2 separate regions of the Homo sapiens genome follow, and region 1 is reported to be linked to region 2. Evidence: microRNA targets listed by miRTarBase, many of them from high-throughput screens and not tested one by one. Region 2 holds a microRNA gene; the other region holds the end of a gene's coding sequence.
The links. Region 2 holds the annotated microRNA hsa-miR-6127 (UGAGGGAGUGGGUGGGAGG, at 1,698-1,716, shown strand). A microRNA usually pairs through its seed, bases 2 to 8, with sites in the 3' UTR of a target mRNA and lowers its output. Matches are read on the target gene's strand: a 7mer-m8 pairs with bases 2 to 8, a 7mer-A1 pairs with bases 2 to 7 and ends in A, and an 8mer does both.

Region 1 (5,065 bases), not on the chromosome of region 2:
GGTTGGGAGGGTCAGGACTTTGCTAGGCGAAACAGTCTGCAGAGGACGCTTTGCTGATTGCTTTTAGTGTGTTTTGTGCCCGGATCTTTAGGGGTCGGCTACGGAGCGGACCGGAGGCGCGGCCGCCAGATCTACTCGCGGTACCAGACCCTGGAACTGGAGAAGGAATTTCACTTCAATCGCTACCTAACGCGGCGCCGGCGCATCGAGATCGCCAACGCGCTTTGCCTGACCGAGCGACAGATCAAAATCTGGTTCCAGAACCGCCGGATGAAGTGGAAAAAAGAATCTAATCTCACATCCACTCTCTCGGGGGGCGGCGGAGGGGCCACCGCCGACAGCCTGGGCGGAAAAGAGGAAAAGCGGGAAGAGACAGAAGAGGAGAAGCAGAAAGAGTGACCAGGACTGTCCCTGCCACCCCTCTCTCCCTTTCTCCCTCGCTCCCCACCAACTCTCCCCTAATCACACACTCTGTATTTATCACTGGCACAATTGATGTGTTTTGATTCCCTAAAACAAAATTAGGGAGTCAAACGTGGACCTGAAAGTCAGCTCTGGACCCCCTCCCTCACCGCACAACTCTCTTTCACCACGCGCCTCCTCCTCCTCGCTCCCTTGCTAGCTCGTTCTCGGCTTGTCTACAGGCCCTTTTCCCCGTCCAGGCCTTGGGGGCTCGGACCCTGAACTCAGACTCTACAGATTGCCCTCCAAGTGAGGACTTGGCTCCCCCACTCCTTCGACGCCCCCACCCCCGCCCCCCGTGCAGAGAGCCGGCTCCTGGGCCTGCTGGGGCCTCTGCTCCAGGGCCTCAGGGCCCGGCCTGGCAGCCGGGGAGGGCCGGAGGCCCAAGGAGGGCGCGCCTTGGCCCCACACCAACCCCCAGGGCCTCCCCGCAGTCCCTGCCTAGCCCCTCTGCCCCAGCAAATGCCCAGCCCAGGCAAATTGTATTTAAAGAATCCTGGGGGTCATTATGGCATTTTACAAACTGTGACCGTTTCTGTGTGAAGATTTTTAGCTGTATTTGTGGTCTCTGTATTTATATTTATGTTTAGCACCGTCAGTGTTCCTATCCAATTTCAAAAAAGGAAAAAAAAGAGGGAAAATTACAAAAAGAGAGAAAAAAAGTGAATGACGTTTGTTTAGCCAGTAGGAGAAAATAAATAAATAAATAAATCCCTTCGTGTTACCCTCCTGTATAAATCCAACCTCTGGGTCCGTTCTCGAATATTTAATAAAACTGATATTATTTTTAAAACTTTATACCGGGAATTCTGTTAATTCGCTCGCCCGCCGGCCTCAGGGTGAGAGCTGGAGCAGGCTCCAAGCGCTCCCGCGCCTGCCGGCCCCCTGCAAGCCCCCAGCCCTCTGCACTCGCCTTCCCCGGAGCCCAGGCGCCCGGCCCCGGCCTTCTGTTCGTTCTCGCGATCGCACTGAGGGGCTGGGAGGCCTCTCTGGGCTCCCTGCGCGGAGCAACACACACACCCTGCGGGAAAAAGCCGCGTAGGATTTTGTTGCGGGGGGAGCTGGGATCAGTCGGTTTGGGCACCAACCCCACGCAGGCCTTTCTTCCTGCCTGTGGCAGCCGGTGTCCTCGGCGTCCGAACCCTGAGGCGCCCCGAAAGACCAGTAAAGAAGCACTATCCAGGCACCAGGGTCTCCTCCACCCACTCCCGGGAGTTGGAGGCGGGGGGCGCCGTGAGAGCAAGCCCCAGGCCCGCGCCAAGCTGGCTGTTGCGAAACGTAGCGGAGGCGGAGAGCGGAGGGAAAGAGAAGACCGCGGGACTGGAGCCCTGTCGGCAGGGATTGAGCGATTCAAGGACATCTCGAGAGAGAAAGCCTGGAAACTGAGCTCTCGCCTGCTCTGGTACTCCTGACGTGGCCGGGACAAAATTCCTTCTTCATTACAGCTCCAGCCGGGCTGGTTCCTTACTTTTCTCTCCTCAAACGGGTGAAGAGGCGGGTGAGGAGCGCAGCCGGACCCTAACCATTTATCAACCCTGGCCTTCTCTCTCCAAGCCTGGCCAGAGAAACCTGAGTGGGCCTACAGGGAGAGGTGTTGAGGAGGGTCTCCGGAGGGAAAAAATCCGCCAGAGTTTTCCGGGCCCTTCAGATTCCCTCCAGCGCCCCCACCCTCGCCTCCAGTGCCTCCACCAGTGAGGAGGGGGCCTTCTCCTGGCGGGGCGGAGATTTCCTGGGAAGAAGCAGGCAGGGAAGTATGAGACTTGGGGCTACGGGGGAAGAGGATGGGGCCGAATGGCTGCAGATACCCTGCGAAGGCTACCCAGGCGCCTGCCCTGCCCACCCCCCAGGTCCGCCCCATTCCTCTTGGTAGCTCAGAAATTGCTCTCTTGTGAACCTTATGGATTCAGGTCCCTGGAAAGCCTAGCCCAGAGACCTTTTCCCCAAAGGGCACATAACGGGCCTTTTCCTCTGCCATGCTCACGTAATATTTGTGGAGGCTTCAATCTTGCTTCTCCATGTCCTCAATTAACATCTATTTTCTGTCTAAAACCTCTGGCATAGGTACCACATAAGGATCGCACACAGGGAAACAGAGCAGTCCTCTAGACCATTGTCTGGCTCTGTCCGTGTCCACACACACACTTGAAAATTGCCTTGTTGCCACTCTGGGGACCCTAGCATGGTGAGGTCTAGCCAACTCCACCTGGCTCCTCACCTCCAGATCCATCCCAAACAGCCTGCAACACCCTCAGCTTCATGACCCCCCTATCTTGTTCTGACCACTCAGGATCCCTCCTCCTGGGCGTCCTGTCTACCTCTTCAGAAGCTAATTCTACTTTCTCTTGCTGATAGGCACCTCTTCAGCAGTAGTGGAGCCTTAGGGCCTGAGAGGCAAGGGACTTCTACCTTTGGTTTAGGGAACCTAAGTTAAACCCCATTGGTTCTCCAGCCTGGGCATAGGCCACCTTACCTAACTTAATCCCCTTTCCTCAGCCATTTTTGAAGATTGGAAGACCCTGGAGGTTGGGAGAACGGGACTTTCATTACAAAAAGCACTCTGTGCGTTATAAGTGGGGCCTCGTCTTTTCCCAATTTTAAATAGAATTTAAAAGGCTAGCTCAGGGGTTGCCCCAACAACCAGCTTCTCCTTCACAGTGTAGGAAATCCAGCCACCGGAAAGCAAGCTGGCGCTCCAGGATGCAATTCCCCCACATAGGCACCAGGTGTCGCTGTGGGCTTGTTGTCCCGGCTACCCCCAATTCCAAGAACCTTTTTTTTTTTTTCCCTCCCCCTTCCCTCTTTCTCTCTCTCACTCCCTCTCCCCCTTGGTTGGGCTTTGCCAACATATCGAGATGCTTTTCGCCGGCTTCCATCACTAACCTCCCGGAGGTCATCAAGCCAAATTTATGAGTGGCCGCTCGAGTCACGTGACTCTATTTAAGGCTCCCTTATTTGGGAAGAGCGCATAGGATAAAGAAAGAGATATCTCCACCTATAAATTGTCCACTTTGGAGAACAAAAAACCCCTCAACTTCAAAGAGTCACAAATCACCCTTAATCAAAAAGGGTGCAGAAATTTTTTTGGGCCCTCCCCGCCATGAGCTCCTACGTAGCCAATTCATTCTATAAGCAGAGCCCCAATATCCCTGCCTATAACATGCAAACTTGTGGGAACTATGGATCGGCCTCAGAGGTGCAGGCATCCAGGTACTGCTACGGCGGATTGGACTTAAGCATCACTTTCCCACCGCCTGCGCCTTCCAACTCTCTCCACGGGGTAGACATGGCTGCCAACCCCCGGGCTCACCCCGACCGCCCCGCCTGCAGCGCCGCGGCCGCTCCGGGACACGCTCCGGGCAGAGACGAAGCGGCTCCTCTGAACCCCGGGATGTACAGTCAGAAGGCGGCTCGCCCGGCGCTGGAGGAGCGAGCTAAGAGCAGTGGGGAGATCAAAGAGGAGCAGGCGCAGACAGGGCAGCCCGCCGGACTGAGCCAGCCACCGGCCCCGCCACAGATTTACCCGTGGATGACCAAACTGCACATGAGCCACGGTAAACTTTAGGACTTCATTTTGCGCTCTCGGGTCCGCCTGGGTTTTATAGGCCATGCGGGGCAAATAAAGAAAAAAAACCTGCGGCCATAAATTTTACGATCCAGGCATCAATGGCTCGTAAAACTGTCCACTAAAAGGCTTAGAGGCTGTGTGCGCCCAAATTTACGACGACATAATTGGATCATAGGAACAAAACGTGTATAAAAGGCAATATTCAATTTTTGGGGGAGAGGGAGGGAGTTAAAAAAATAGAGGGATCTGAAGGGTGAGGAGCGCGGGGCTCCAGAGCGGGGATCCCCCCGCGGCTCCCTCCCTCCCTCCCCTGCGGAGCCGGCTCCGCCGGCGCTTGCGGCTCCGGAGGATTCCAGCGACTCGGGAGGGGCGGGAGGGGGGTCCCCGGTGCTCGGATCTCGAGGGTGCTTATTGTTCGGTCCGAGCCTGGGTCTCCCTCTTCCCCCCAACCCCCCCTCAGCCCCTCCGGCTGCAGAGTGAAGGCTGCGGTGGAAAGTTTCCTGCCTGGGCGGAGGCGCCTCTCCCGGGGCTGGGCTGGGCTGGCCCGCCTGCGGCCCGCGTGGCCTGTCTTGCGGCTCTCGCCTCCTCTCCCTCCGGCCGCGGGTGGGGGCCTGGGCTGGGGTGGGGACGGGGGAACGCTGCAAGCTATTCACCCCTTCCTGGCTTGGGGTGGGGTTTATGTTCCAGAGACGGACGGCAAGCGGTCCCGAACCAGTTACACGCGCTACCAGACTCTGGAACTCGAGAAAGAATTCCACTTTAACCGCTACCTCACTCGCCGCAGGCGCATAGAGATCGCCAACAACTTGTGTCTCAATGAGAGACAGATCAAGATCTGGTTCCAGAACCGCAGGATGAAGTGGAAGAAAGATTCCAAAATGAAAAGCAAAGAGGCTCTTTAGAGGCAGCGGGGGAGGCCCGCAGAGCGCGCCCCTAGCCGGTTCCTGTCCCTGCGCCTTTCCTTTTCGCCTTTCCTCTCTATATTTCGGGTCGGGGGCAGGTGCTGGAGCACTGGGCTCCCGGGCCCCACAGACAAAA
Region 2 (5,071 bases):
GGAACTTATGGTGTATTTTCTGGGCTTGCCTATAGCCACCCATGGACCAATCAGTATGCACTTCCTCCTCTCTGAGGCTCATGAAAGCTTCAGGCTCAGCCAGAGCTGGGCAGACATTGGATGACCAGCTGCCGAGAGGAGCTACCCGCTCCAGGGCCTCCTCTCTGCTGAGAGCTGCAGAGATGGCAGAACAACTTGCCTGCAGAAAGGAGCTTCCCATTCCAGGGTCTTCCCTCTTCTGAGAGCTGGAAAGTCGACAGGATGACCTGCCTGCAGAGAGGAGCTTCCCATTCCAGGGTCTCCTCTCTGCTAGCAGCTGAACACTCATCAGGACACCCTGGCTGTGGAAAGGAGCTGCCCCCTGAGGGAGGCTCTGCAGGAGGCTGAGCTGTTCTATCGCTCAGTAAAGCTCCTCTTCGTCTTGCTCACTCCCCACTTGTCTGCATACCTCATTCTTCCTGGTTGCAGGATAAGAACTTGGGACCCATCAAATGGTGGGGCTGAAAGAGCTGTAACACAAACAAGGCTGAAACATGCCCCTTGCTTGCCATGATGCAGGTGAAGGGAAGGAAAGAAGAGCTGCGGCCCTCTGGGGAACCCAGACCTGGGAGCTCCCCAAGCTGGAGCTGTGACTCCCTTTTCGGGGCCCTGTGGTTCCTGGCATCTCGAAGCTTCTGGGTGCCACCGTGTTCCCCGGTGCCAGCTGTGGAAGCTGCTTGTGGTGTACTTGGTCTAGCCACAACCTCTCAGAGAGCTGGCGCCCATGCTGGCACCTGGAGCTGCTCACCCCGCTGCAGCAGCCGGCATGTCTGACTGTGTGCAGTGGCCAGACCCCATGTTCACTCACACACCCTTCACTGTTCCATGCCTGACTTGCCCTGGGCAGATGTGGAACCCAGGCTGGTAATGTGAGCTGAGTGCTGCCTGCCAGGAGGAGTGAGTGAAACAAGCCCAGTGGGCCTGAGCAAAACTTGGGCAAAGGTGCCACCAGCCACAGAGGTTTCCGGCCAGAAAATGACACCCCAAAGATCCTGTAACACCATCTCAAAAAAAAACAAAAAACAAAACCCAGCAACAAAAGCCTGTGAATTCTACCATCTAGAGACAATTGCTGCTAGTGTTTGAACAGATCATCTAGCCTTACTCACCTTAACTGATGGGATGCTCATTACCTGTCAGCACGGCACACTGCATCATTGTCAGCTTGGACCCTGAGAATGCTTTTCTTTAGATAGAGAGGCTCTGTCTCTCCCAGACTGGAGACCAATGTGTTCAGGCCTGGGCTGACCACATCTGTCTGCTTCTTCTCATGAGCATGTTTTTGTTTGTTTGTTTGTTTTCTGAAAATTTTGCCAGAGGCAGGAGGAGGAAAAGAGGAGGAGGAGGGAGGAGATAAGGGAAGGCTGTTGAAGTGGGCAGATGAAGGATGGTCTAGAGCCAGGGTTTTTGAGCTTTGGGGACTTCTTTTTCATTTGCAATCTTGTGTGGCATCTGATGTATGTCAAACAGATAAAAATGGGGATACTGGCTTGAAGGGTGGGGGCCCAGAGCTCCCCCTGACAGCCCCTCCCATGCTCCCTGGATTCAGAAAGTTCGTGGAGCTGGAATCTCATCTGCTCAGCCCATACCTAACTCACAGTGTGACCCTGGGCAAGTTATCTCATCTTTCTGAACCCCACTTTCTCCATCTACCAAGATGAGGGAGTGGGTGGGAGGTGGGAAGGCTGCCCCAAATGGCCTCTAACATCCCTTCCAGTCTCCTCCTCCTCCTCCTCCTTCTTCTTCTTTTGAGACAGAGTCTCATTTTTTTGCCCAGGTGGGAGTGTAGTGGCTGGATCTCAGCTCACTGCAACCTCTGCCTCCTGGGTTCAAGAGATTCTCCTGCCTCAGCCTTCCAAGTAGCTGGGATTACAGGCACGCATGCACCACCATGCCCAGCTAATTTTTGTATTTTTAGTAGAGACGGGGTTTTGCCATGTTGCCCAGGCTGGTCTCAAACTCCTGACCTCAGGTGATCTGTCCATCTCGGCCTCCCAAAGTGCTGGGATTACAGGCGTGAGCCACCGCGCCCAGCCCAGTATCCATCTTCTTCTTCTTCTTCTTCTTCTTTTTTTTTTTTTTTTTTTGAGACAGTCTCACTTTGTTGCCCAGGCTGGAGTGCAGTGGCTCGATCTCAGCTCACTGCAACCTCTGCCTCCTGGGTTCAAGAGATTCTCCTGCCTCAGCCTTCCAAGTAGCTGGGATTACAGGCGTGTGTGCACCACCACGCCCGGCTAATTTTTGTATTTTTAGTAGGGACGGGGTTTTGCCATGTTGCCCAGGCTGGTCTCAAACCCCTGACCTCAGGTGATCTGCCCATCTCGGCCTCCCAAAGTGCTAGGATTACAGGTGTGAGCCACCGCGCCCGGCCCAGTATCCATCTTCTTTGACTGCATTGCGTCAGCCCTGCTTGCCTGCCAGAGGAGTTAGAAACATGACATGCCCGAGGCAGAAACGCCAGCCCTGCGTGCCCTATTTTACTCTGAAGACACAAAGGACCAGAGACAAAAAAAGACTTGCCCGGGTCACACAGACAGGGGCAAGAGTTGGCAAGAGGAAAAATCAGATACTGTGAAAAGCTTCTCAAAGTCTAGTTTTCAAAATATTGAATACCCAGTTCCTATAGAAATACAGTGTGGGAATGTGTCAGTGTCCTCTTGTAGGTTGTTAATGGAGGAACCAGCTGGGTGACAAAGCTAGTTCAATGGATATGGAAAAAAATATATATGTATACCTATATATGGAGACAGAGAGAGTCAGTTAAAACAACAAGAATTCTGGAATATTCATAAAATTGCTAAATTAGATACAAAACTGGTTAGTGTTCTATAGGGCAATAAAATCATCATGTTGGGGCTATCTTCTCTATTGAAAAGAAATCATTTGCATCTCTACTAGACAAAAATAATTTGCAACTTAACAGTTTTCTACCAGTTAACAGCTATCTTTACTGAATCTGGGCTCTAATCAATAGTAAATAATAAGTCAAGCCAAGTGACATTCCCCTAGAGTGTCAGATGACCCTTAGCAGGGTTTGTTAGATACAGCTCTCATTTGACTTTGAAAGGACACCGGTTATCTATTTGCCTTATTTCCAAGTGTTGGATGATTTTACTTATCAGGCTGTTGCAAGAGTATAAACACTTCCCAAGAAATAAAAGACATCGATACTAATGCGCATATCATTAGTGTGAGAAATAAAAGGGTCAGCAATGGCCCTGTGCATGTCACAACAGGGACACCTTCAGGCGGAGAGGAAGGGCATATTCTTCCATTTCTCCAGAGCCCAGACTCCTAGACGGGAGGCAGGAGATGTGGGGAAGAGAGGAAATTCCTAGCCATGCTTGCACAGTTATGATCCATGAGGTTCAGTCTCAGAGTGGGATCAAAGGTCAAATAAATAACCAAAAAATAATTTTTAAATGACTTGAATTCTTTATGGCAGTCACATCCCATTCAAGGGTTGTGTTGCAAAATCGGCATACGAGGCAAACATTGTAAATGGTGAGTATCACCATTGTAAATGGTGGAAAAATTCTTCAAACAGCGCCACGTGAAAGACTGTATTACCGTTTCACAATAGTCTTTTGCTGTCAGTTTTGGCTCCAATAGTAGAACAGATTTCTTTTTCTTCAGTTGAGTACCAGTTGGTTAAGGTTAACCAATTCCCCCACCACTCACACACAAAGGAATTGAATCTTTGGAGACTGGAGCCACCCTTGGAGGTGAGGTGTTTAGATCATGAGGGGTTCACAGGAGCGGAGGCAGACTTGGGGACAGCAGAACTCTCCCAGCCACGGTCCCTCCAGAAATAGGCTCTTAGAAGACAGTATCCCCTGGCTGGGAGCAGTGGCTCACGCCTGTAATCCCAGCACTTTGGGAGGTCGAGGAGGGTGGATCAACTGAGGCCGGGAGTTTGAGTCCAGCCTGACAAACATGGATAAACTCTGTCTCTACTAAAAGTATAAAATTAGTTGGCCTAGTGGCACATGCCTGTAATCCCTGCTACTCGGGAGGCTGAGGCAGGAGAATTGCTTGAACCCAGGAGGTGGAGGTTGCAGTGAACCAAGATCAGGCCATTGCACTTCAGCTTGGGCGACAAGAGTGAAACTCCGTCTCAAAAAAAAAAAAAACCAATATCCCCTGCCTTACTTAAATTGTGATTCTCTCTCTGAGTCCTATTAGGCGAAGTGGAGATAGGCAAGTGTGTATATAATGCGACTCTAAGGTGCTTGTATATTTCTTTTAAAAAAAATGAGGCATAATTTGCACAGAGTAAAATGTGCACATCTCAAGCACACTGCTCAGTAGCTTACACCTGCACGCACAGGCCCTCTACCACCACTCAGATCAGAGTGCAGAGTATCCATCTCCCCAGCGAGGCGGCCGTGACCCTCCAAGTCAACAGTGCTCCCCTCCACCCGCAAAGTAACCGGTGTTCTGCTCTCCCTCACCATTGGTGCCTTCTGCCTGTTCTTGAACTTCATGTCAATGGAATCATGCGGCCTGTGCTCTTTTGTGTCTGGCTTCTTTTGAAGAGCATGCCGGTGAGATGCATCTGTGTTACGTGTGTCAGTTTGCGTGGTATTGCTGAGTGCTATTCCATCGTATGCATATGCAGTATCACACTTTGTTTGTCCCTTCTGTTGGTACAGAGTTTGGGCTATGATGAATAAAGCTGCTAAGAACATTCTGGTGCAAGTCCTCTGCCCCACCCAGCCCTGTGAACAGATACACTCAATTCTCTGCTGTACATTTGAACACCAGGAAGGAGGCATAGAGTTGACACCAGTGCTCTTTGCTCTTTTCCATCCACTCCTCCAGACCTCTGTCTTCAACTTCCTGTCTCCAGCAAAAAAAAAAATCTCCCGGCCCCTCTGCCCAGAGCCACTGTTCCTCCTTCTCCCTGACTCTCCTGCTCTCTGTTCTTTATTATGGAGATTGTCTTAGTCTCGCCTTTCTTGCAAAACCCTCCTTCTGGGCCTTTTGGGGTCTATCCTTCCATTCTTTGTCCCCACCACCCAATAAGATC

Region 1: miRTarBase lists HOXC6 as a target of hsa-miR-6127. Seed matches in the 3' UTR shown: 7mer-m8 at 433-439 and 8mer at 564-571.

What each region holds. Positions count from the first base shown.
Region 1 is chr12:54,029,564-54,034,628 of GRCh38, forward strand. It overlaps HOXC6 (homeobox C6), which reads left to right. Exons shown (of 2, transcript NM_004503.4): 2 at 92-1,260. The coding sequence ends at 399. It overlaps HOXC5 (homeobox C5), which reads left to right and starts at 3,487. Exons shown (of 2, transcript NM_018953.4): 1 at 3,487-4,013; 2 at 4,715-5,065. The coding sequence starts at 3,560. The coding sequence ends at 4,929. It overlaps MIR615 (microRNA 615), which reads left to right and starts at 4,387; the gene lies at 4,387-4,482. It also overlaps a transcript of HOXC4 not described here. RefSeq lists enhancers at 3,002-3,296, 3,291-4,442 and a silencer at 4,526-4,585.
Region 2 is chr1:22,629,973-22,635,043 of GRCh38, reverse strand. It overlaps MIR6127 (microRNA 6127), which reads left to right and starts at 1,678; the gene lies at 1,678-1,786.